Linked DNA regions of Homo sapiens: regions 1, 2, 3 and 4 are each linked to region 5. Evidence: fine-mapped expression QTL. A gene starts in region 5. Each other region holds a variant in brackets. All regions are shown on one strand. Distances are between the middles of the regions. Region 1 overlaps CD82 (CD82 molecule). Region 2 has its middle 27 kb from the start of CD82. Region 3 overlaps CD82 (CD82 molecule). Region 4 overlaps CD82 (CD82 molecule). Region 5 holds the start of CD82 (CD82 molecule).

Region 1 (5,100 bases), 54 kb after region 5:
GCCACTGGCTACTGGTCAGGCGACACCCCTCGGAGCTAGGAAGGAAGCGGTCCAGGAACTGACCCCTGCTGTGACCGTGGCTATCCCATTGAATCCTCCCAGGAACCCCCAGCATTGCGGGGATTCACACACAGAGACCTCCTTTAGCACACAGAGCCCGGAAAGGCTTTCTTCTCTCTAGAACTAGAGCATTTTCTCCTTTAAAATGGCAGAATTGACCAGCTAGCCAAGGTGGCTCACACCTGTAATCCCAGCACTTTGGGAGGCCGAGGCGGGCGGATCACTTGAGGTCAGGAGGTCAAGACCAGCCTGGCCAACATGGTGAAACCCCGTCTCTACTAAAAATACAAACATTAGCCGGGCGTGATGGCGAGTGCCTGTAATCCCAGCTACTCAGGAGGCTGAAGCAGGAGAATCGTTTGAACCCTGGAGGTGGAGGTTGCAGTGAGCCAAGATCACGCTGCTGCACTCCAGCCTGGGTGACTGAGCAAGACTCTGTCTCAGAAAAAAAAAAAAAAAAAAAAAAGGCGGAATTGACCCCGTCTCCTTTTTCACTTTTCACTTTTTTTCCTTTTCACCAGGAAGCTCAGAGGCAAATCTCAACTCCTGCACTAAAGTTGAACGGCCTTTCCTAAGCTTATTGTGCTCCCCACACCTATGCTTGGTACTTTGCCTGCCTCATCCCATTTAGTCCTTGTGATAGCCCTGTGAGTTGGGGATTTTAATTATCCCCATTTACAGATGAGGAAACTGAGGCTAGTTCCTTGATGGAGGTTGCTCAGCTGGTAGGCGGCAGGGCTGGGATTGTAACCCAGTAGCCTGACTTTAAACCCTGCACTGTGAACTGTCTGCCGTCCATTCTCCTTGTGCCCTGCACACCTGCGCTCCTTCAACTTGAACTTCCTTCCTACTCTGCTTTGTATTTTTGCTGGTCCTGGTTTTGATTTTTCTGCTGTACTTGTAGTTTATGATGGTTCGGCTGGGACCAGGGGCCTGGAAGTGGCATATCTCAGTCTCTGTCCTGGGGAGGTCCTCCCTCTGCCAGGAGGGCAGCCTGCCTAGGGTGAGCCGTGAGCACAAGCAGTCTGTCCCCTGCCTTGCCCAGGTGAAGTGCTGCGGCTGGGTCAGCTTCTACAACTGGACAGACAACGCTGAGCTCATGAATCGCCCTGAGGTCACCTACCCCTGTTCCTGCGAAGTCAAGGGGGAAGAGGACAACAGCCTTTCTGTGAGGAAGGGCTTCTGCGAGGCCCCCGGCAACAGGACCCAGAGTGGCAACCACCCTGAGGACTGGCCTGTGTACCAGGAGGTGTGCGGGGGGCTGCGGATCGGGGGCGGGGCTCCGAGGGCGTTGGGGGCCATCTGGGCTACTGCTCAGCAATTCCTTCCTGCATTTAGTTCCTTCCCTTAATTCATCTGTCATTTGTACCTTCATCTACTTCTTTGTTAATGTATTTATTCAAGGAACAGGCAGAGCCCTCTGTAGGGGCTTCCGGGCTGGGACTGGGGGGCTCTCGGTGGTTCTGCATGGCGGGGTGGGATGGTGCAGAGCGGGGTGATGTGACCGCATTCTGCCCTTGCAGGGCTGCATGGAGAAGGTGCAGGCGTGGCTGCAGGAGAACCTGGGCATCATCCTCGGCGTGGGCGTGGGTGTGGCCATCATCGAGGTCTGAGCCCCCTCCCCCATCCCTTCTCCATCCCAGGTCCTCCTGGGTTGTCTCTGTTCTGCTGATCTCCTTGGGGAGGTGGTGGCCAAGGGGGCCAGCACCCCATCAGCTTCCAGAGGCCCTCTGGTCTGAGCACTGTCTGGCTGTGTGACCTCAGACAAGGCACTGCCCCGCTCTGGGCCTCCCTCTGCTGCCTGCATCACAGGGTGGTTGTGAGGCTCAAGTTGAGGATCCACTTAATCCCCATGTAAACCTGGATGGTGAGGCTGGGGCGTCTGAGGCCGGGACACCCAGCCTCCCTCTGACTCTCCGCCTCTCCCCACAGCTCCTGGGGATGGTCCTGTCCATCTGCTTGTGCCGGCACGTCCATTCCGAAGACTACAGCAAGGTCCCCAAGTACTGAGGCAGCTGCTATCCCCATCTCCCTGCCTGGCCCCCAACCTCAGGGCTCCCAGGGGTCTCCCTGGCTCCCTCCTCCAGGCCTGCCTCCCACTTCACTGCGAAGACCCTCTTGCCCATCCTGACTGAAAGTAGGGGGCTTTCTGGGGCCTAGCGATCTCTCCTGGCCTATCCGCTGCCAGCCTTGAGCCCTGGCTGTTCTGTGGTTCCTCTGCTCACCGCCCATCAGGGTTCTCTTAGCAACTCAGAGAAAAATGCTCCCCACAGCGTCCCTGGCGCAGGTGGGCTGGACTTCTACCTGCCCTCAAGGGTGTGTATATTGTATAGGGGCAACTGTATGAAAAATTGGGGAGGAGGGGGCCGGGCGCGGTGGCTCACGCCTGTAATCCCAGCACTTTGGGAGGCCGAGGCGGGTGGATCACGAGGTCAGGAGATCGAGACCATCCTGGCTAACATGGTGAAACCCC[G/A]TCTCTACTAAAAATACAAAAAAAATTTAGCCGGGCGCGGTGGCGGGCACCTGTAGTCCCAGCTACTTGGGAGGCTGAGGCAGGAGAATGGTGTGAACCCGGGAGCGGAGGTTGCAGTGAGCTGAGATCGTGCTACTGCACTCCAGCCTGGGGGACAGAAAGAGACTCCGTCTCAAAAAAAAAAAAAAAAAAAAAAAAAATTGGGGAGGGAAGGGCGTTAGATAAGGCACTCTGGGCTGTCAGGAGACTGCCTACTGGGTGGGTCAACTTATTTCCCACTATGACATTTATATCTTTATTTTTCACAATTATATTGAAGGCAGTGGGAGAGGGGAGAGGGTGGGTTTTACCTGATATTAAGGGGTGGCACCCCTTCCCCAGGCCTGATGCAGGTCCATCTAGACAGCTCAGATTAGCCTAGGCCATGCCCTAGGGACACGGCCTAGGGGAGCTGGGCTGGAGGGGGTCTGCCTGGGTAAGGGGATCTGGCTTGGCCCTGAGCTGCTTAGGGACAGGTGAGTCCTTGGGGGCATGGCACAGAGCTGGTCCTGTATTCTCCAGGGTCCGGAGCTGGCCAGGGGCGGGGAGGAGGAGGATGGCTTCTCCTGGGAGAAGGTGGGCTGGCCTTTCTTGGCAAGCGGTCCTCTGGCCCCTGGGGAGTGGGGTGGGTGAGGCTGTGCCTTGTAGGGGGAGAGGGGAGGGGGCTTTGTGTGCACCATTCTGTAAAACACACTCAAGATTCTAAGACTATTAAAGAGGATTTATAACAGTCTAGTCTGGAATGGTAGGGATGCTGCTTCCTGGGGCAGGGGAGGACCCAGGGCAGAGGGTGTGAGCAGAGTGGCTGGGTCTGCTGGAGACTGCTGGACCCCTCACTGCTCTGCCCTCCCCGCAGGCATCTGCTTCTGCAGCCTGAACCTTAGGACCGTGATGGGCCAGGCTCTGATGGGCCTGCCTGCATGCCGGGGTGCCTGGAGTTTGATTTGGTGCTAAGAGAGGTATAGATTGTACCTCTCAATTCCTGCTTCTGAAACTAGGGTATGGGTGCCCCCAGAAGCTGCACAAAAGTGGGCTGGTGATGGGGGACAGGGAAGCCACAGGATAAACTTGGCATCGCTTTCTAGAGCATCCGTTTCTGCAAAGATTTGTGGAAGGAAACATTTTCATACTAAAGAAATGTGATGGAGTAAGATGTGCAGAATTCAGGGGACTTTTTAAGATGAAATGTGAGACTTTGGGAGGCTGAGGCAGGTGGATCACTTGAGGTCAGGAGTTCGAGTCCAACCTGGCCAACATGGTGAAACCCCATCTCTCCAAAAAATACAGAAATTAGCCGAGTGTGGTGGTGCACGCCTGTAATGCCAGCTACTCAGGAGGCTGAGAAAGGAGAATTGCTTGAACCCGGGGGATGGAGGTTGCAGTGAGCCAAGATTGTGCCACTGCACTTCAGCCTGGGCAACAGAGCGAGAATCTGTCAAAAAAGAAGAAAGGAAGAAAAAGAAAACGACAGAGAGAGAGAGAGAAAAAGAAAAAGAAGCTTGCTCTTACTTGTGCACGGCTCTGACGACTGAGCCCCAGCATGCCCCTTGCCCGGCGTCATGAAGTCCAGAGGGCACTTGCCCCACCTTCTCTCATTTCTGGAGCCAGTGGGGAGGGGAACTCTTGCCTCCCTGCAGTGGGGCCAGGCGGGGCGGCGGCTAGAGTGGTGTTTCAGCAGGGACCACCAGGCGGCGCTGCAGCCTCAGCCTAGGAGCCCGGCAGAGCCCAAAGGTTCCGTGGTTACTCCCAGTTTCGCCAACGCGGGGCCTGCCAGCGTCCCACTCCAGTGGAAGCACTTGTGAAAATGCAGATTCCAAGGCTCAAGGATTCTGGCGCTGCAGATCTAGGGTGGGGACAAGGAATCTGCCTATTTGCACCCCTTTGCGTTGATTCCGGAAGATTTTCAGACCTGGAGTAATGTCTGTCCCAAGCCACGTGATGACCTCTCAGCGAATGTGGCAGCTGAGGAGGTGTCAGCGGTGGGGTCGGCTGTGGGTCCCTCTGTGGCCTTGGTCGCCTCCCTCTGGGATGGGGGCAGGAGAGGAAAATGTCGATGGTTCCACCTGGCCTGACTTCCCTGGCCCCCCACAGCTTCCACCCTCAGGAAGGGTAGCAGAGAGCTGTTGGGTGTCTTTTCATAAATGCTTTCTCACTGGGAGCAAGGGGACCTGAGTTTGAGTCCAGCTGCATCTCCATCTTCCTGTGCGACACGGGGCCTGGCAGGCTGAGGGTGGGCTCAAAGCTGTTTGCAAAATAGAGGACTGAGAAAACGTCAGAAGTTAGCGAAGGGGTGGGCTGCTTCCTCTGACACGTCCATCCTGCCCAGAGCTCACAGCTGGAAGGGGCCAGAGCCAGGATTTGAACCCCACGTATCTGACTTCAAAGACCATCCTCCTGGCTCCACTGGCTCCTGCCCTTCCAGATTTCCCAGAACAGCCCCAGGACGTGTGTAGTGTGAGGCTCTGACCCTCGCTTTTGTGAAATCTGGTCACTGTGAGCTCTGAGCCTGCTGGGTTCCTCATTTCAAC
Region 2 (5,100 bases), 27 kb before region 5:
TGTGTCCCAACTGTATGACCTTGGGCTAACTGCTTAAATCTTTCTGTGCCTCGGTTTCCCCATCTGTAAAATGGGGACAGATTAAATGAGCTAATACAAAAAAGTGCTTAGAATAGGGACTGGATTGTCAGTCCTCAATACATGTTAGCTTTCATAATAAATGCTGTTGTGGTCATTATTATTATTTTCCTTGGCCAGTGAGTTGGAGAAGGAGTTTGGTTCAGGAGGGACATGATGTAGTGAGGACAGGCAGAGATGGGAGTGGGAGATGGACACCACCTGTGTCTGGCCCCGAGCTGGACACAGGGAGCAAGTGATGAGGCCTGCAGGAAAAGCTCAGCCAGAGAATGTTATGATGCAGAAGAGGGAGGAGGGGCAGCCCACAAGGACTCAGGAAAGCTCCGGGATGACCTGTAATCCCAGCACTTTGGGAGACCAAGGTAGGCAGATCACTTGAGGTCAGGAGTTCGAAACCAGCCTGGCCAACATGGTGAAACCCCGTCTCTACCAAAAACGCACAAAATTAGCCAGGCATGGTGGCGGGTGCCTGTAGTCCCAGCTACTCAGGAGGCTGAGGCAGGAGAATTGCTTGAGCCCGAGAGGCAGAAGTTGCAGTGAGCCGAGGTCATGCCACTGCACTCCAGCCTGGGCAACAAGAGCAAGACTCCGTCTCAAAAAAAAAAAAAAAAAAAAGAGATAGAGAGAGAAAAGAAAGGATCTAGCAATATGTATGTAAGGTGCTGGGTGCTTATACATTTTATCTCATTTAATATTCACGTGTTGAGGACATTTAATATTGTTGATGATTATATTCCTATCATCAACGACTGTTATTATCCCTGTTAGGGATGAAGAGACTGAGGGTCACAAAGGGGAAGTAATTTTCTCAAGGTCACGCAGCTGGGAGGTGGTGGAGACAGGAGTAGAACCGTCACCCACCCTGCGGGTTACCATCCGCGGGTGGGAAGGGTGGGTGCGCTGGGCTGAGAACTGGGGCAGGTCTCCTCCGGGCTCTGCCTCTGTGTTGCTGTGTGATCTCGACTCGGAGCTTCTTGCCCCTCTTCTGTGGAATGAAAGGGGAGCGAAGGAGGAGGGTGTCTGAGGGGCGAGAGATGAGCCTGGAAGAGAAGCAAGGGCGGGCAGGGGGGGCTGTGACCTCAGCAGGCGGGGTGAGGTCCCAGCTCAGGAGCATCCTGGGAGCTCTGGTGGACCTGGCCTGGAGCTAATTAGCTGCTGGGAGGGGAAGTGCAAGGGCGGCGACCTTGTGGGGCGGGCCAGCCTCCCGCTGGCCCTGACACTAAGCCCAGCACCCACGAACATCTGGCCCGCTTTCATGCAGGCCTGGAGAGAGGCTCTGTCTGAGGGTCAGAGGTGGGGTGCAGATTGTCAGGGAGGACCTAGCTCTGCCCTGGGAGTTATGGGACCTTGGACCAGTTTCCCCATCCATCCCGGTGATAGATGAAGCCGGCAGCCCCCTCCGTGGGCCCCCTTCCAAACCTCACATTCCCTGGGCCTGTGAGTGTGGGGAGAGGTCAGGGAGATAGGACATCCCTGGAGGCCTAGGGATGTGGGGCGAGGCCTGTGGGAGGACAGCTGAGGTGAACCGGGAAGAGGACTGCAGTGTCATGAAGACTTGTGCTTAGAAAGAGCCTTGTAGGTCCGGGTGCGGTGGCTCACGCCTATAATCCCAGCACTTTGGGAGGCCAAGGCGGGTGGATCACCAGGTCAGGAGTTCGAGACCAGCCTGACCAACATGGAGAAACCCCATCTCCACTAAAAATACAAAAAATCCATAGCCGGGTGTGGTGGCGCATCCCTGTAGTCCCAGCTACTCAGGAGGCTGAGGCAGGAGAATTGCTTGAACTCAGGAGGCGGAGGTTGCAGTAAGCCGAGATCACGCTACTGCACTCCAGCCTGGGTGACCGAGTGAGACTCCCTCTCAAAAAAAGAGCCTTGGAGAGCTAGCCCATGGTTTGAGCCACTTAGGATCACCACAGTGGAGGGGTGGCCAAGGGAGTGAGGTCCTTGTCCTGTCATCCTAGGCTCCAACGGCTTTCTTTGTCTGCCTCCGTGTCTGTCTTCCCCACTGGGTGTGGCAGAGTCAGGCCTCTACTGCTAAGCCTGAAAATGCCCGACTCAGGCCAGCCCCATTTGACAGAGAGAAAGGCCCAGAGAGGGGAAGGGACTTGCTTGAGCCACAGCCAAGGAGGCTGAGGGGACTGCGGTGACAGAGGAGCGCCACCTCCATCTCCCTATCCATGTAACTCCAGCGCGTCTGCCTCTGAGGAAAAGAGACCTGCAGCCTACCCGGATGTGCTCATGCCAGCGCAGAAGAGTGTGTCCAAGGTGTGGTCTCCCTGGACCACTGGCTCTCCTGGCATCTTCCGTAGGAACCTACGCAGCTCCATGTGTTCTTCACTCCTGGTTTCTCCCTTCTCAGAATTCCAGGCTGCTGAGTTTTTCATTTCGCCGTCCCTCAGAGAGGCAGAATCCGTGTGTTGGGGAAGTCTGGAGATGCCCCTGGACTTCCCTGGGAGGTGCAACTTAAAAACAAAGAAACAAAACCGCAAATCCAACGCCTATCAACTGTCAGGTGTGGCCTGACAACATCCCGATGTCCCGTCGTAGCAGGATTGCCCCCGCTTTGGAGGGGAGGAAACCAAGGCTCAGAGAGGAAATGGGCGCTCCTGGTGTCCCCCGCTGGGAGTAGAACTCAAGCCTGGAGGCTCCAAGCAGCCTGTGGCCTGCTCTGGTGAGGTTTTTCGCACCTCTCCCAGGGCCTCCTTCCTCCCCGACGCAGAACAACTCGGATCTGCTGGTCCCACGGCGTCCTCAGGTCTCATCGGACCGTCAGTGGGCCTGGACAGCAGTGAGCAGGGCCCAGACGGCCGTTTCAGAGACAAGGGCGAC[A/G]CCTGCTGGAGATAAGTGAGCACGACATGCTAAGGCCAGGGGCGCATTCACTGCCTGGCTTCCTTTCTCCCTTGATGGGTGTTTATTGAAGGCCTGCTAGATGCAGCATCTCCAAGGTGTCAGAGACACTGAATGAAACCTGGTCTTTACCCCACAAGAGATTCCCAGCCAAATATAGAAGGTGCATAGCAATAATTGCAATGTAAAGTATGAAAACCAATGGTTTTCACTTTTTCCCCGCTTTTAATCAGTGGAAATAAATTCCTGTGTGAAAATGTAGTTAATAGGCCAGGTGCAGTGACTCACACCTGTAATCCCGACACTTTGGGAGGCCAAGGCAGAAGGATTGCTGGAGCTCAGGAGTTTGAGACCAGCCTGGCAACACAGCGAAACTGCGTCTCGACCAAAAATACAAAAGTTGGCGGAGTGTGGTGGCATGCACTTATGGTCCCAGCTACTCCAGAGGCTGAGGTGGGAGGATTGTTTGAGCCTTGGAGGTCAAAGCTGCAGTGAGCTGAGATTGCGCCACTGCACCCCAGCCTGGGTGACAGAGTGAGACCCTGTCACCAAGAAAACCAAAAGCAAAATCAAAAAAAGTAATTGACAATAGTAGCCAACACTTAGCGAGCACTTACTGTGTGCTAGGCATGGTCCTGAGCGCCTTATTTGAATGAACTCATTTATTCCTCCCAACAACCCTTAGGAGGCAGGTACAACATTAGCTTCGCTTTACAGATGAGGAGACTAATGATCAAAGAATGCGAGTAACCTGGCCAGGGTCATGAAGCTTGAAAGATGCAGAGTCAGGTTTTGAATGCAGGCCGCCTGGCTTTGAAGCCTTGACCTTCATCTCAAGGTTATGGGACTGCCTCTCTGTACACCTGGTACAAGTAAGGCTTCTCTGGCAGTAGGGGTTGGGGGGATGTGAAGTTAGGAACCACACTTGCTCTGCCCATCCCCCACCTCCTCTGGATTCCTAAGGAACCATCAAAAGCTGCCGACCCCAGTGTGGAAATCAGTGCATGCATGACATCGATAGGTCTTAAGCAGGGAAGAGGGAAAATTCTTTTTGAAGGAGAATTTGTATCATTTTAATGATTTTTATGTACAGAAAATGAAAGTGTACATTTAACCCAGTTAAGTGGCAAGTTCTTTAACCTTTGCCTTTTCCAACTTGGCAATGCAAGCCATAGATTTGGGACCCAGGATATTGCCTCCCCAGTGACGACGGATATCATCATATCTGTCGTTGTAATTAGTCCTGACAGCTTCCACCAGCTTCATCAAAACTCCTTTGTCTTCTGAGTTAACCTGTGTGAAGGCAACAGTGGTGCAGGTCTTCCTGTGGACTGGACGTTCCAGTCTTGCCTTCCCCTTGATAATGCAATCAGAGACCCACATTTTACAATGCAGGGCAGGCAGGAAGACAACAAGCTCGATGGGATCCTCGTCATGTCAAGTGCTACTCAAAATGGTTAGGCCCATTGTCTCCAAGCTACCTGCTGAGAGGTGATCGGCCTAGCATGCACACTCTTCTCTGCGGGAAGCAGCAGGCTGGCAACCAAACGTCTGTTCACATGCAGTCATCACTGGCTGAGCCTTCTTGTTCTCCACCAAGGGGTAACGGTGTTGACTCCTGCTTGAAGGACAGGTAGTCTCTTAGTGAGGATGTCCCCTTTGCTGTCAGCTTTCTTCTCAGCCTGGGCCAACAGCCTCTGCTTCTACTCTTGCTTTGTCTCTGGTCTGTATTTGTGGGTCAGCTTAGGCAGCTGAGTAGCTGGTGGTCCAGGTCCTGGGTGAACTGGTTAATCACAGGGGGCACTTTCAGCCACTTATAGAGGATGGCTCTCTGCCGCTGCAACCTGATATAGCAGGGCCATTTCACAAAGCGGCTGAGGTCACTTTTGGGCTGGATGTCCAGTGCCAAAATTCTTAGGCCTTTTCTTAACAGAGGGGATTCACCACTTTCTTGGTCTCCTGCTTCTCCATGACAGCAGGGGCCGGGGCCACTTTCTTCCCCCTGCGCTTCTTTCCTCTTGGCATCTTGGGAAGGTGGAGGAGCAGAAGAAAATAGATTTATGTGTTGCAATGGTTACTCTAGGGGTGGAGCAAGGAACTCAAACCAGAAGCTGTGATCAGATTTGGGAGGTGAACTGGGGAGGGAGTAGAGGGCACAAGAGCAGAGGAGGA
Region 3 (5,100 bases), 46 kb after region 5:
CTCAGCCGGAGGCTGATGTTGCTGGCATCATTGCCAGTGTTTATTATTATTGCCGCCATTATTCACTTCATGAAGGCCTGGTAAGGGCTCAATAGGTGGCAGCTGTTCCTGCTGCCCTCGTTGTCAGCAGAGCAAGGGCTGCGGGAATGGGGATCTGGGCACGGTGCTAAGATCCTCATCTGCTTGTTTATCCAGCCTCTGGTGAGCAGAGCCCAGCCCTGGGATTCAGGGGCCCTGTGTTTTAGTGTGGGCTCTGCCGCTGATTGCTGTGTGGCTTCGGATAAGTTACCCAGACTCTCTGATCCACAGGCGAGCTCTTGGGCCATGCCCAGTGCAGGCAGTCAGGGATTCTGACTTGTTCTCTCTAGAGAGTGGAGGTGGGAGGAGTGAGAAGGAAGTGAATGCAGTTTGCCCTTTCCTGTGGTGTGTGGGTGCTGAGCTGGGTGCACTTGGCAGGCCATACCTGTGCCAGGGAGGCCCCTGAGGCTCTGAGTGCTGTCACGCTCAAGCAGAAGACATTGGAGGGGAAGGGGCTCACTTGGCCTGGCTGGGAGCCAGAGGTGGGGGCTGTGACAGTGGCAGTGGCTGGCCAGACAACTCCCCAGAGATGTTGGTCAGGGGAACTGTGACTTCCTTCTTGTCCTCCTTGCTCTCACCCTGAAAGCCCCAAATTGTTGGTGCGCACATACCCTCATGTGTGAGACACAGGTGGCGAGACGGGTTCCTAGGGGACAGTGTGGTTCTCTGTGAACTGTCTGCTTGCTGAATTAGAACTTCCTGATTCTCTGGCTTGGGGTTCTCTTGCGATGGGGCAGAGGGAGGAAGAGCAGCTGGAGCCTGGGACAGGGAGAGGTGACCTTTCTCTCCCCTGTTGAGAAGGGAATGGAGGAGTCCAGGCTACCCCTCTGGAAAGGGATTATGGAAAGACACTTGGGCTAGAATCTCTGAAGCACACGCTGGTCACTGGCTCTGCATTCTGGGGTAGCTAATTACGTGGATTGCAGCTGGACTTGCAGAAAAGATGCAGGAAGCGCCCTCATTTCCTATCAGGGTACTGGGATGCAGCCTCTGAGCTGGTGTATCTGTATTCTAGCAAAGCATTTGCCAACATCTCATGTGGGAAACCTGGAGAGGACAGGAAGATGTGGGTCCAATTCATGCATTTATACCTTATTATAAGGGGCTATTTCACACCTTAAAGAGCATGGCAAGAGGTCTGCACAGCACCCCAAGGGGCGGGCACAGGAGCCCGAAAAGTTACCCTGGAGATGTAGTCTAGTCTCAAGTATCTGGATGACATGTGTCCTTCGAGAGAGGGATTTGATTTGTTCCTGTGGTCCTAGCTGGGACTTGGGTAGCTGAGAGAGGAGGAGGATGTGAACTAATACAAGTGGGTAGAAGTCATTTGAGCAGAACTTAAATTGTATCAGAGCCTCTCAACTCCGCAACATGCTATTGTGTGAGGTACTGACTTCCCCATCGCAGGGAGCATTTAAGCAGAGCCTAAAAAAGCATGACTCTTACATTTGGATGATTTGCTGGACGCAAAGGTCTCTCCTAACTCTGACTCTGTGAAAATTCACACTAAAAGAGAAGTCAAAGCTCAGCATTTGGGTGGGACGTGAGTAGAGCCATGCAGAGGACAGCAGGGTCATGGGGAGGCCCTGGGCAGCTTGCCGAGGCTAAGATCCCGGGTCCCTGGAGCTGCACAGATCAAGGTCTGGTCATGTCTCTGCTGCTTTCTATCTATGTGATCTTGGGAAGTTGCTCCAACTCTGAGCCTCATTTTTCTCTTCTGAGAAATGGGGAGGAGGGAGACAGGGAAGACAGGGCTGGCTTCCTCGGCATTCAACCTATGCAGTCACACAGGATAATCTGCTGTTGCTGTATTGAAATTCTTTTTTTTTTCTTTTCTTTTTGAGATAGAGTCTTGCTCTGTTGCCCAGGCTGGAGTGCAGTGGGATGATCTCGGCCCACTGCAACCTCCACTTTCTGGGCTCAGGTGATCCTCCTGCCTCAGCCTCCCAAGTAGCTGGGACTACAGGCACACACCACCAGGCCCAGCTAATTTTTGTGTTTTTAGTAGAGATGGGGTTTCACCATGTTGGCCAGACTGAACTCGAACTCCTGACCTCAAGTGATCTGCCCATTTCGGCCTCCCAAAGTGTTGGGATTACACGTGTGAGCCACCACGCCCAGCTGAAATTCTTAATAATTTTTAAACAAGGGGCCCTGCATTTTTGCTTTGCACTAGGTGTAAATTATGCAGCTGGCCCTGGGCAGGACTCTTTATGGCATGTGACAGTGACTCAACTGAAAGTAGCCAGAGCCAGCAGAAGGCTCAGCTGGATCCCAAAGGCTGCTGCTGTCCCTATTCACCCTTCAGCCCTACCCTCCTCTGTTGGCTCCCTTCTCGGGCAGGCTGTCCCCAGTGGAGCCTGAGGGTAGCCCAGGTCCTCATCCTACCACA[T/C]TGATGGAAAGAGGGCCGGGTATGTGAGCATGGGTCTCAAGCCCATCTCTGAACCACTCGCCGTGCCTGTGATGTGGATGGCACTGAGTGGCAGCCCAGGTCTTTTGCCTGCTTCTGGCATCGAGGGAGTGGGGCCTCCTCAGCTCCATGGAGAAATAGAAGGGTGGTTACATCCAAGGAGTGGGTTTCTGCAGGGCAGGCAGAAACAATGGAGCGGTCCCTGGGGGGATGGAGGGAGCTCATGAATGTCTTCTCCTGCTACCTCCCTGTCCTTTTTGTCTCAGTAGCTACCTGGTTGCCAGGGTGACCTCCCTGCACTCCCAGCACAGGCCTCCTGAGCATCAGCTCCAAGCTGAACCAGCCCCTGTGGCCATGGTCCCCGTGGCCCAGGTGTGTCCCTCAACCACATTCTGGACTGAAAGATGTTGTGGTGTTTCCATGGAAACCACCCATCTAGGTGGAAACCACCCAGCTTCCATCACCTTCTCATTTCAGGGAGGCTGGGAGAGAAACAGGGAAGTCCAGGCTGCTGTGACAACCACGCTGGGGTTTAAACAGAGCCTCAGTGCAACATGTTGTGAGGAAGCTGGGTGGGTGGGGAAGGATGTGGGAGAGGCAGCTTTCCGCACAGATGCTTCTAGAGAGCCCCTCCTTTCCACACCGTGGGGATCACCCACCCACTGGGGTTGAGAGGTGGACCCGAGATGTCAGATCACCTGGCAGACAGCCCCAGCTATGTGACTCAGGCAAACCACTTAGCTTTTCTGGGCCCTGGTTAAAACTGGGTATAGCCGTGTGGTTTAAATGCCAATAAAGCTTAATAGGTAAAAACCTGGGTTCTGAAATCAGCCAAGCCTGTGTGCAAACCTCACTTCTTCCGCATGTTGGCTGTGTGACTTTGGGCAAGTTAATTAACCTCTCTGGGTTTGTTTTCTGCATCTCTATAATGAGGGAATGGGGTGAATACCTAGGCCATAGGTCTGCTGTGAAGATTCAGTTGAGATAATACATTTAAAGTGCTTACCACAGCACCAGGTACATAACAAACATTTGATAAAAGTTAGCCACTATTAGTGTTGGGATTAATTACTGACAGGAAAGCTTTGTAAATTGCAGAACTCTGTATAAGGGCTTTTTTTTTTTTTTTTTAAATATCATGCTGAGAGCTTTATTGAGAGAAGGGCAGGGAGCGTCATCAGAGGCTGGTTTCCCAGCATTAATTTTTTTTTTTTTTTTTTTTTTTTTTTGAGATGGAGTCTGGCTCTGTCGCCCAGGCTGGAGTGCAGTGGCGTGATCTCGGCTCACTGCAACCTCCACCTCTCGGGTTCAAGCGATTCTTCTGTCTCAGTCTCGCGAGTAGCTGGGACTACAGGCACCTGCCATTCACACCCAGCTAATTTTTGGTATTTTTTTTTAGTAGAGATGGAGTTTCACCATGTTAGCCAGGATGGTCTCGATCTCCTGAGCTCGTAATCTGCCCACCTTGGCCTCCCAAAGTGCTGGAATTACATACGTGAGCCACCATGGCCAGCCCCAGCATTAATTTAACCAAGGGAGCTGGGTGAGGAGCCAGGGCTGCAGGTCCATCTGCAGGATATGGGTTCTCTGAGCACAGCGTTCATTCAAGGACTGCCCATGGGGAGCTGCTGGAAGCTCCACCAACAGGGTTCCCTGGGAGTCAGGCTCTGAAACCCCACCTGGAAGTACCTGTCTCATTTCTCCCAATTCTTCCTTCTCAGGAACCGAGGTGGGAAGGTGTGTGGCCTTCTCCTTGGCATCCCTGCCTTCTAGGGTCCCTCGCCCCCACTGCCTTGACCAGTCCAACCATGCATTTGCCCTGAAAGGTCTCTGGGCAAGGTCCATGTGAGAGGCTAGGTGGAGCCAGGCAGGGGCTGGCTCTCGGAGGCTCCCCTCCCACCCAGGCCTGCTTATCGCCGAGGGAGGCCCTGCCCTCAGCGGGCTCTGGGTTTGCCTCCTTTTGCACAACTGACTTATTTAGAAACCCCTTCTCTGCCTGCTTTGTAAATCAGTGTTTTCTCTGTGGGGTTAGCTGAGAGCAGGTGCTGCTCTCCACCACAAGAAGGAACCCTTAATTCCTGAGCAGGGTGAGGACCAGCATAGGCAAGATGTAGATTTGGGCCAGGCGAGGTGTCTCAGGCCTGTAATCCCAGCACATTGGGAGGCTGGGCTGGGTGGATCACTTGAGGTCAGGAGTTCGAGACCAGCCCGGGCAACATGGCGAGACCCTGTCCCTGCTAAAAATACAAAAATTAGCCGGGCATGGTGACTCATGCCTGTAGCCCCAGCTACCTGGGAGGCTGAAGTGAGAGGATTGCTTAACCCCAGGAGGCAGAAGTTGCAGTGAACTGAGATCCTGCCACTGCCCTCTAGCCTGGGTGACAGGGAGACCCTGTCTCAAAAAAACAAAACAAAGCAAAACAAAAAAAAAAAAGTGAGATGTTTTTGGAGCTCTGGGGCAAGTAGCCAGGTCCCAGAAAGGCAACTGACCTCACACTCCGGCTGGCTGGCACTGCTGGCTTGGGGCTTGGGAAGGGGTGAGGGAGGATCTTTTCTGTTTTGTTTTTTGTTGTTGTTGTTTTTGTTGTTGTTTTTGTTTTTTGTTTTTTGAG
Region 4 (5,100 bases), 30 kb after region 5:
GGAAACACAAGTGGGCCTGGTGCCGTCCCCTCCACCCCCCCAGCCCAGCTCTGCCCATGCAGCTGTCCCAGGCCAGCTGTCCAGGCCCCAGCTGCCCGGCGGTGCTGGCTCCCTTTGCCCCAAAGGGTCTGAAGGCTGGCGGCTGGCACTCCTGGATTTTCTGGCCTCTGAGTCAGGGTGAGAACAGTCAGCTTCCAGCTTCCCTCTTCCTCCCGGGGCCCTCCCCTCACCTGGGGTCTTTTGGAGTGGAGGGGGCACAGCATGCCCAAGCATGGTTTGTGTCATTTCAGAAGCACAACTTGTGTCATCGGGGAGACTGTGAAAACTTGGAAACAACCTGTGTGTCCAATCTTAGAGTATCAGTTAAATGCTTTTATGGGATGGCCACATCTGAGACTTTAACCTGGGGCCACTGGGGTTCCTGAATGGGTTTCAGAGGTCCATGAACTCCCAGAAATTATTAGCATCACAAAATGCTAACTACACATGAATTTTTTGGGGGACTCTGTGAGCCCCCAAATGTTAATAAGTACTAATAGGATGGAATCCTATGCAACATGTGAAACTATGAAGAGCATTTTATCAACATATAGAGAGTGAAGATTGTAGAATGAAAAAAACAGGCTAGAAAACACTATACAGAATGAGCCCAATTTTGATTAGAACCATTTGTTATACACACACACACACACACACACGAATAATAGCTACTAAAACGATGACAGTTTTTAATCTCTGGAGTGAGATACATTTTGCTTGATTTCTGTTTTTCTGTATTTGTTGGGTGTTCTACAATGCATGTTTATTCCCTTTGTAATAAGAAGCTGGGACGCTCAGCCTATTTTCTGAGAAGCCAAAATTCCCCTTCTCGCCTTGGCAGACCCCACAACTCCCAGCCCCTAGTCCCAGAGGGAGTCTGTGGAACAAGCACAGGTCTCACCTCTGGGTCTCTGTCAATGGATCACTAACTTCCCGGCCCCCTGACTTCAAACAGAGTCCATCTGTGCAAGTTCCAGAGCCTGGGTCATGGAGGTGAGGGGTGAGGGTCTCCCTCTGTCATTTTGCTCCCACCAGCCCCAGCCCCAGCCCCAGCCCCAGTGCAGTGGCTGATCCGGATCCTAACTGCCAAGCATCAAGTGCCTGGCACACAAGACTGCTCGTGGGACCTCATTTCCTAGCTGTGTGGCTTTGGGCTAGTTGTCTAACCTCTCTGGGCCTCTGCATCCTCTAAGGCAGGGACAGGGTTAGTACCCACCTCCTGGGGTTGCTGCAAGGGCAGACTGAGCTGATCCCCTCACTGGCCTGCCTGCCTTCTCTCTTCCAGGAAGCTCCAGGACTGGCGGGATGGGCTCAGCCTGTATCAAAGTCACCAAATACTTTCTCTTCCTCTTCAACTTGATCTTCTTTGTAAGTATGTCCCATGCCGTCCTGACCACCTCCGAAAAGATTCTCCTTCCAGGGGCATCCCAGCCTGAGCCTTTCCAGAGCCGACCGGGCCGGGGATTGGGGGGATTTGGTGGGTAGGGACTGAGGACGAACTATCTCCAACGGAACCTAGTTGGGGTGGTGAGGAGATTCCCTGCCATTCCCAGCTGGTCCTTTGACCAAGCACTGGATTCCTGACCCGGCCTTCCCCTCTCCTAGATCACCCAAAGCCTGGGCTGGCGGTGGGTATGGGGAAGGAGAGGAGAGCCCCTGGGCATCCCCCTAACTCAACAGCAGGAGCTGCTAGAAGAAGCCTCTTAGCATCTCTCTAGTCCTGTCCTGGCCCCCACCCTGCCCATGTGAAGAATTGACCTGTGACAGTTCCAGGCCCCAGTTGCCCCTATCACACCCCCGTCCCTGTCGTGGGAAGGTATCTCCCTGAGCTCTCATAGGGAGAGCAAGAGGGCGCCAGGCGTGGGGCCAGTGAAGGGCACATACCTCCTTCCCCAGACCCACCCCAGCAGATGGGCCATCCGGATGTCAGCTCTGTGGACATTGACTGCTGGTTTTCCTGGGGCCTCGGTTTTCCTCTCTGGCCTGGCATGGACTGCCTCTTGCCTTGGAGTTGCTGGGATGGTGGGGTGTGTGTGTGAGTGAGAGTGTGTTGTTGGGGGGCAGTGCCCTGGAGAGGACTTCATAGCCTCAGAGTAGTGTTGGGAGCGCTGGCTTCCCTGTGTTGACGGTTTAACCCTATAGTGTTAAAAAAAAATCAGGTTGTACAGTAGGATGTTTCTTATGATCCAAAGTTTTAAATGTACGTATTCATTAAAAAGTGAGTATTTTTGAGAGGAGAAGAAAATACCTCAATGTTAATGTTGGGATTCTTGGGAATTTTGATTTTATTCTTTATGCATCTCTGTATTTTCCCAATTTTCTACGGTAGATATTAATTACTTGTTTGGGGAACAGGGGGTTTACATTACAAGTTACATAGTTTATGGGAAGTTTGGGAAATAAACAAGAATCATTCTAAATTCCCCTTCTGGCCAGACATGGTAGGTCTTGCCTGTAATCCCAGTGCTTTGGGAGGCCAAGGCAGGAGGATTGTTTGAGTCCAGGAGTTCTAGACCAGCTTGGGCAACATAGCAAGACCCTGTTTCTCTACAAAAAAAAAAAAAAAAAAAAAAAGAATTTTAAAAATTCCCCCTTCACAGCTTTAACCCAATGCACAGACATGTACAATGTGTTCCTGGCACCCGCACACAAGTGTTCATACACGCATGCACACACACAGGAAGCCCTGGCGCTGCCTGCCTTGCTTTTTTTCCACCCTGGCCCCGGCCCTAGCTCCCTCCTGGAGGACCCTGTGAGGCCCCACTGTGGCTCTGGCCCTCTGCTCATGGCAGCCGGGCCTGGAACCCACCCCAGGCCGGGCTTGGGCTTCCCCAGCTTGGC[G/A]GTCAGGTCTCTCCTGGCTGCCCTAGGACTTTGGGAAGCAGCTGCCTGTGCAGGCAAAGCCAAGCTTTTCCTGGCAAGCACTTGGTGTCTGGGCGGAGACCCAGCATAAAGGCCAATGGGCCAGGACTCGGGGGAAGGGGTGCGTGGGCACTGTAGCTCTATCCCTGGGGGCTTTAGGGACTAGAGAGAGGAGCCTGGGCTCTGGCCTAGGAGATCACGGAGCTTGGGTTTCAGTGATAAAGAAACTTTCCTTCATGCAGTGGGGGTTGGGGAGACCCTCATAGAGAAAGGGAGTGGGGTTGGTGGTTTCAGCCAGGGTGGCCCTTTCTGTCCTGCTCGCAAGTTGCCCTGTGGAACCAGGGACTGGAAAAGCTGCTCTCTGGCCAGGGCTTGGCCTCCTTTTGGCTCCTCCAGGGGCTGGCAGGAGTCAGGTGTTAACTGTCTGTGTACTGGGGCCTAGGATGACCCATCAGGATGGTGGAGGGGGGAGGGGCAGCTTGTATGACAGGAGGGTGAGAGTGAAAGAGGAGGGCTGGAGGAGGCAGAACGGGCTTGTTTACTCCTCAGCAAATGTGTATCTGACACCTCAGCATCTTCAGATGTTCAGGGCGGAAGAGCCCTGATTGCTATACTTCCGGAGCTTGTGTCCTAGGGAGCAGTGGGCTTCCATCAAATAACTACTCAAATGCATGAAAAATTGCAGTTGTTGGGGGTACTAGGAACAGATAGGCTCTTCGGAAAGCAGATGAGGCTCTTGGCCTGGTCATGGAGGTCAGCAAAGGCTTCCTGGGGTTCTGGGTGTGGCTTTGGAGAGGGGGATCCTGGCAGCAGGGGCAGCCGGTGGAGGCAGAGTGCACCTCCCCAGGCATAGACCCGGCCAGCCTGCCTCTTTGTTTTATGCACATTGGGAGGGGTTTCGTGGTTGGATTTGTGGTTTGGAAAAATCCCCGTGGCTGCTATGTGTGCTCGCGCCTGCGTGCATGTGCACCTGTATGTCTTTGCCTGTACTCCCTCTGGACTCCAGACTCCCCAGCGCATTGCCACTTTTCTCAGGTCCAAAGGAATGCAGAGGCACTGGTGCTGTGGCTATGCTGGGGAAGGACGCTCACTGCTCTGAGGGTCCTGGCTCCTGATGGGTCCCATCTGGGGATTGGGGAAGGGCTGGGGGAGTGATTAACATGGGGCCTGCCCCACAGCTCCAGTCTTGGTTCACAGAGAAAAAGGGGGTGCCATGGTGCCTTGCCCATTCTGGTAGGCTGCCCAGCCTCCTTTCTGGCTCTGCCACAGCCCCGTGGCTAATCCAGCCACATCTGACCATCAGGCTGGGGTCATCAGACCTACAGAGGGACTGAATGGGTAGCCCCGGGGACTTTGCTCTCTGGGTTCCTCTTGGCAAGCTGAGGAGCCAGCTGAGTAGTGTGGGGTTTTGATCTACTTGGGATTATGTGTGCCAAGAGGGGATTTTCTGTCCTGCCTCCCATTCCCTTTTGGTAGGGGCTGTCCTCCCTCCTGTCCCACCCTGTGAATGTGGGAGGGAATGGGGCAGGGGCTCTGCCCACATGGGTCTGAGATGCAGAGGGAGCAGACGTGGGCCTGAGCACTGGCCCCTGCCTCGCTGTGCTGTGGGGTGGTTGTGGGCTGGGTAGGGTTGCAGGTCTTGGGGAACCAAACTCCCAGGTCCTGGAAAGCCCCCATTTCCCCCAGCTGTGCAAATTAAGGTGGACCCACCTTCCAGCAGACTCTTCTCCTCCCCAGTGTCTCAGGGGCTTTTCTGTCCCGAGACTGGCTTTCTGGGTGAAGGCCCAGGATGGATCCAAAATATCCCTATAGCTCACCTGCCACCATCTGGCTTCCAGTCCCTGATGGATAAAATCAAGGCCTCATATAAAATTCCGTGTGTATAAAATGAGGTCAATTACAAGGCCCGTCTCACTGGGAGAGAGGAGAGGACAGATAATACCTCAGTGATGATTCTGGTGGGAGACACTGGGGGGCAGACGTGGGGTGGTCACCGTGCCTTTGTGGTTGTAGTCATCAGTCACAGTGGTCTTTAAGGTAGCAAGTACAAGGGTAAAGGGAGAGAGGCAACCCCCTACTGAGCCACCTGGGCCCTGGGGCAAAAGGAAACATTGATAATACTGATACTGTCAACATTTTATTTCAAAGTTTAATAGTTCAGTTATCATGGATTTTTGGCCTTAATTTTTTTTTTTTTTTTTT
Region 5 (5,100 bases):
TCATGGGGGGAGGGGACAGTGAGGGGATCCAGCTGTTTTGCCAATGGCCAGTTCCCATCTGTCTGCTGGAGCCCTATTAACTTCAGTAGGGATGGTACTAGGTTCAAGAGGCTGAAGGAGAGACCAGAGCCAGCAACTGGGACATGGGGTTTTATTGGGAAACTTACACACAGGGACGGCCGGTGGCAGTGGGCTGGACAGGAGAACTGTACAGTCCCATGGCAGGCTGGGCAGGAGAGCCACAACCGCTTACAAAAAGCATGCAGTTTATACATCACTCTCACTTAGCACCCTCCCCCTAACAACCCCCACCTGATAACCTTCATTTGGCCCCAAACAAAGAGCTTTGAACCCCTGTACACCCTGCATTCCACAGGATGGGCCGGGGTTCAAATGTTCCTCACAGATAAGGAATGAATCTCCAGGTTGGTCATTCCCGGATTCCTTAGCTCAAAACTCCAAACACACATTGGGGTGCATCTGCCATACAGGACCATTCTCAGGGTATGCTTAAGTCAAGTTATTGCTGTCAGGAGCATCTGCCATACACCATCACAAACACCCCCAGCTCGGAGGGAGCGGGGTGTGGAGTAGGGTGGAATAGGAGGAATTTTATGCCCATTTTGCATGGGCTGGGTAGGGTAGGGATCTGAAACCCAGCCCAAGACAGAATGGCACAGTGGTTCTCAAAGTGTGGTCCCCGGACCAGCATCCACATCATCTAGGAGCTTGTTAGGATCTTAACCACTTGCAGGATAGAGGGTGTCTCTCTGCGGGTATGACACACTGCTGGGTTTAAAGGATTCTCCAGCCTCACTTTTCTGACTTGGTGTGGGAATGCTATGAAGGAGACTTTTTGCTGAAAAGAGAACATTTTCTGAGCATGTACGGCATTCAAGCGGTGGGCCAAATACTTTATGAATGCTGTCACATGTAATCTTCAACAGCTACCATCAAGATCGGTATGATTGTTATGGCTCATTTTATTATTATTCCCTGTTTAAGGGCTCATCCCAGAGGTTAAGTATCTTGCCTTGTCCTGGGTTTAAAACGCAACCAGGAAGCTACCTAGGTCTGTGTGATTCTCAGACCACCCTGACTTCTTTACAGTTTGCTCAACAGTGGTTCATGCTTGAATGTGATTCAGAATCACCTGGAGGCCTTATTAAAACCAATTGTCCCACAGTTTTCCATTCAGTAAGTTGGGATGGGGCTTCAAAATACGCACTCCTAACAAGTTCCCAGATGATGTTGCTCCTGGTTCAAGGACCACGCTGTGAGAACTACAGTGCTGGGCTGGGATCCAGCTCCCGCCCTTACTCCACTCGTACAAAGCGCTCATAATCATACCCTCCCACAACGGTGTGTTGTGAGAGGACATTGTGATAATGGAAGTGAAAGAGCTTTGTCAGCTGCACAGGTGAATGCCCCTGGTCATTAACCAGGTAATCTGCCTGAGGCTAGTCCTCTGGAGCCTGGGAGGGCAGAGGGCTGGGACGCAGGGTGGGCACCGCAGCCACCTAGAGAGCTCTTGCAGCCCACCTCAATTTTGGGCCACTTTTTCTTCAGGGAGAAAGCCAGCTTTGAGGGCTTAGGCCCACAGCCCCTCCTGCCACTATTCTCATCAACCCACACCTCCTCCCTCACCTCAGGCAGCTGCTGGGCACTGCCCCAGCACTGGTTGTTCTGGGCTACTTCCCCAGGGGCCAGTCCAGGCAAGCTGGGGCAGCTCAAGCCTGTGACTCAGGACCTGAGGCTGGATCCCGCTCACGCCCGCCTCCATGAGATTCAGAGCCCTCGACTTCCCTTCTCTGAGCCTTAAACTGCGCATTAGTAAAATAGGCGCAACGAGAGTACCCATGAGTTGTGGGAATTCAAGGGCTAGAACTGTATTCAGCGCTTGGCATAGAGCCTGGCCCCTGGCAAGGATTCAATCAATGGTAGTCAGTATTTTCAAAAAGTTCCTGGGCCCAGGCCGCCTCCTGATAGAGGCCCCGACTTAGGACACAAACCGCTCCCACGCCGTTCCCCGGCGGCACCCGGATACACCCGCCCTGGAATGCCAGCGTGGGGGCCCCAGGGCTACCCGCCCGAGATGAGAGGGGCAGGGCAGGGCAGGATTAGGAAGGCGCTGAGCCCAGGCTGGTGCGGGGAGGGGCGTGGCCTCACCCTACTAGGGCCGGGGGATGGGGTGGGCTCGAAGGAGAAAGTGAAGGAGGCGGGGGCGCTGGGAGGGCCCGGGAGGAGACCGGGAGGACGAGGTAGGCGGGAGCTGGGCGGGACCGTTAGGCAGCGCCGTGAGTGGACAGGGCTGGAGCGGGGCGGGCTTAATCCCCAGTGTAACCTGGGGGCGGGGCTGCCGGGATAGAGGAGAGACTCCGTAGCGGGGCGGGGCCTCAGCTCCAGCTGGGCCCGGGGGCGAGGCTGGTTGGGGTACGGCCATAGTGGGCGGGGCCTGGCCGGCGGGAGCGCACCGCCTTCCCAAAGGGCTCGGGGGCGGGGCCGGCGGAGGGGGCGTGTCTTCTGGGGGCGGGGCCTGCCGAGTCCGCGGCGTTCCCCGGCTGCAGCCGGGAGGGGGCCGAGGAGTGACTGAGCCCCGGGCTGTGCAGTCCGACGCCGACTGAGGCACGAGCGGGTGACGCTGGGCCTGCAGCGCGGAGCAGAAAGCAGAACCCGCAGGTGAGCAAGGGGGCAGCGGGCCGGGGTAGCCTGCCGGACAACCATAGGCAAAGTTAGTTTTAGCCCCCGCTTCTGCGGTCCGGCTCGGACAACTTTCCTCGGAACTAGTGACAGGTCGGGGCAGCTGGTGGGTGAAAAGGAGCTTTAGCCACCAGTCCTGAACCCCCAGTTCTCACACTCGGCCGTGCACAGCTGCGTGATCCTGGGTCCGTCCCTCTACCTGGCTCTGGACCTCCCGGGTTCCAGCAGGAGGAAGTGAACCAGGTGAATTCCACGCTCCCGTTGCCCTTTCTCACTTAAAACGCCGGAAGGTGAGAGCTGGCAGGTGAGAGCAGGCTGCAGGTCGCCACAGGTGTTCCCATCGCGTTGCCCTCTGCAGTTTCTCTCCCTGCAAAATGGGACTGAGAGAAGCGAATTGCTTTAAAGAGTGCACTGTTTCCTCGGTTGGGGCTCGAACCCACCAACCCTGGGGAAGAGGAGGCCAAAGCAGGGAGGTTCCATTTCCCGCCTCACCTGCTTCCCACCAATTCTAACAGTTCAACTGAGCCGGACCCCCTAAGACTTCAAGTTGGAAACTCAGTGGGGCTTTTCCAGGTGAGCTGGCCTGAGCAGGAGGTTGGAAACTGGGGAACAGTTCTTACACTGGTGAGTGGGGAAGAGAAGGGAAAACCCCACCAATCCTTGGGCCCAGGGTCAAGCCCAGGGCCCCAGGGGCCCTTGAAGCATACCCGGGGTTAATTTCTTGGCTGACGGGTTCTGTTCCTGGAGGTGGTGGGTGCTCTGTGCTGGGCCCCAGTAGCGGGGCAGCATAGTTCTGTGGTCAAGGCTTGGGCTTTGGGATCAAACTGATTTGGATTCCATTCCCCCTCCAAACTTCAGTTTCCTCACCTGTAAAATGGGGATAATGACAATATCCAATAGCAGGAGCAAGCACTAAATAGAATAATGTGTATACACTACTTAGCAAGGTGCCAGGAAACCAGTGAGACCTCCCTCTGTGACAGCTGCTTTGATGCGGGTGGGCAGGTGATGGGCTTGCTTCCTATGGGGAATGAGCCTTTTTTTTTTCTTGGAGAGATGGGGTTGGCTACAGCCCCTCCTGACCTTGTGAAAGCCAGAAATTGCCACCTGCCACCAACATCACTCTATTTGAGGGATGAGGACTGTGTCATCTGGAACAAAGAGTGGCTGAGTTTTCTGTAATGTTGCTTGAGGTTGGTAAGTGTTGAGTTAAATAAGTCTAAAAATGTTTACTGAGCACCTACTATATGCTAGAGAGAGCTAGAGGATACAGAGGTGAACTAGCCAGGCCTGAGTTGCTGACAATGAGGGCTCCCCCATCCCTACCATGTCCCTGTAGAGAGGATCAGTCACACCCAGGGCTTATAACCAGATGAGATTTCATGGGTCTGTTCTGCCCTGGTGGCTGGAATCCAGCTATACCATTGCACACTTGGCTTGGGATGGGGGCGAGGGGCAATGTGGGCACCCGATATCTAAGCAGGGTTGGACACTGAAGGACGCTGAAGGTGCTGCATTATATTGGCTCCCTGCATCTTCTGGGAGATAAGCTGTACAGTATGGAACAAACTGGAAAGTGCTGTGGGACAGAGACGGACTGGCGGCTGCGCTGTGTGCAGGAGACTGTGTGTGTATGTAGGGCAGGGGGAGGTGTTCAGAAGAGTGAGACACTTGAGAAGCCAGGGCAGGGGGTGGGGGTAAGGAGGCTTCCTGGAGGGGGTGAGACTTGAATAGGACTTTCTCTCTGGGCTCCTGGTCCTGGTTTGGCTTGGATCAACATGGGACCACAGTCTCTTCAAGCACTGAAGTGGCATAAATTGGAGTTTGGTATGGTGGGGAGGGAGAGGGTCTGGTAGGTGGTGCCTGAGGTGGGGAGGAGGAGACGTTCATTTCAACAGAGCCTACCTAGTGAGCCTTAATGGAAAGCCCTCCCCACCACCACCCCCACTTCCTGCTCGATGAATGACAAGCGACCACATAAGGCCTGCACCCTCAGGTTGCTTACCATCCGGGAAGGGGCTTACACAAGAATACCAGGGACTCTGATGGAAGATAAATGAAAAAAGGATTAGAGGGATCTTCAGGGCCTTACAGACTGGGAAGATTTCGGCAGCCAGAATGAAGATAGTGTCTTGAGGAGAGGAAAATGCCTAGGCAGAGGCAGGGAGGTCAACCTGTCCTGAGAATTCTCGAGAAACCTCTAGGTTGCTCATTCTGGCTGAAGTTTGGGAACGTGTGGGGATATGCAGTGGGAATAGTAGGTGGGATCAGCTTACGGAGGGCCTTGAATGACAGGATAAGAACTTTGGATCTGATTTGCAGAAAGTGGGAGCCACTGAAGGTTTCTGAGGAGAGGAGTGACACAACAGAGCAGCACTTTAGGAAAGTCAGTCTGTACCA

Evidence for each region. PIP is the estimated chance that this variant, and not a neighbour inherited with it, causes the effect.
Region 1: its variant is fine-mapped to the expression of CD82 in whole blood (TOPMed, PIP above 0.99).
Region 2: its variant is fine-mapped to the expression of CD82 in whole blood (INTERVAL, PIP 0.94).
Region 3: its variant is fine-mapped to the expression of CD82 in whole blood (INTERVAL, PIP 0.96).
Region 4: its variant is fine-mapped to the expression of CD82 in anterior cingulate cortex (GTEx, PIP above 0.99). The same link has a PIP of 0.9 or more in cerebral cortex and prefrontal cortex.

The regions. Positions count from the first base shown.
Region 1 is chr11:44,617,057-44,622,156 of GRCh38, forward strand. It overlaps CD82 (CD82 molecule), which reads left to right. Exons shown (of 10, transcript NM_002231.4): 8 at 1,106-1,309; 9 at 1,584-1,667; 10 at 1,993-3,302. The coding sequence ends at 2,070. Among named protein-coding and RNA genes, the nearest start is that of CD82-AS1, 14 kb to the left of the region's middle. The variant G/A (reference allele first, on the strand shown) is at 2,534.
Region 2 is chr11:44,535,741-44,540,840 of GRCh38, forward strand. It overlaps the pseudogene RPL7AP79. Among named protein-coding and RNA genes, the nearest start is that of CD82, 27 kb to the right of the region's middle. RefSeq lists enhancers at 1-206, 4,055-4,661 and a silencer at 2,885-2,944. The variant A/G (reference allele first, on the strand shown) is at 2,911.
Region 3 is chr11:44,608,934-44,614,033 of GRCh38, forward strand. The region is part of intron 6 of CD82 (CD82 molecule); the gene reads left to right. Among named protein-coding and RNA genes, the nearest start is that of CD82-AS1, 6.1 kb to the left of the region's middle. RefSeq lists enhancers at 1-467, 471-640 and silencers at 3,103-3,182, 3,253-3,302. The variant T/C (reference allele first, on the strand shown) is at 2,471.
Region 4 is chr11:44,593,319-44,598,418 of GRCh38, forward strand. CD82 (CD82 molecule) reads left to right here. Exons shown (of 10, transcript NM_002231.4): 3 at 1,325-1,407. The coding sequence starts at 1,345. Among named protein-coding and RNA genes, the nearest start is that of CD82-AS1, 9.5 kb to the right of the region's middle. RefSeq lists enhancers at 2,905-3,483, 3,484-4,063, 3,487-3,726, 5,052-5,100. The variant G/A (reference allele first, on the strand shown) is at 2,881.
Region 5 is chr11:44,563,058-44,568,157 of GRCh38, forward strand. CD82 (CD82 molecule) reads left to right here and starts at 2,606. Exons shown (of 10, transcript NM_002231.4): 1 at 2,606-2,679. RefSeq lists a silencer at 2,105-2,704 and enhancers at 2,619-3,119, 3,625-3,694.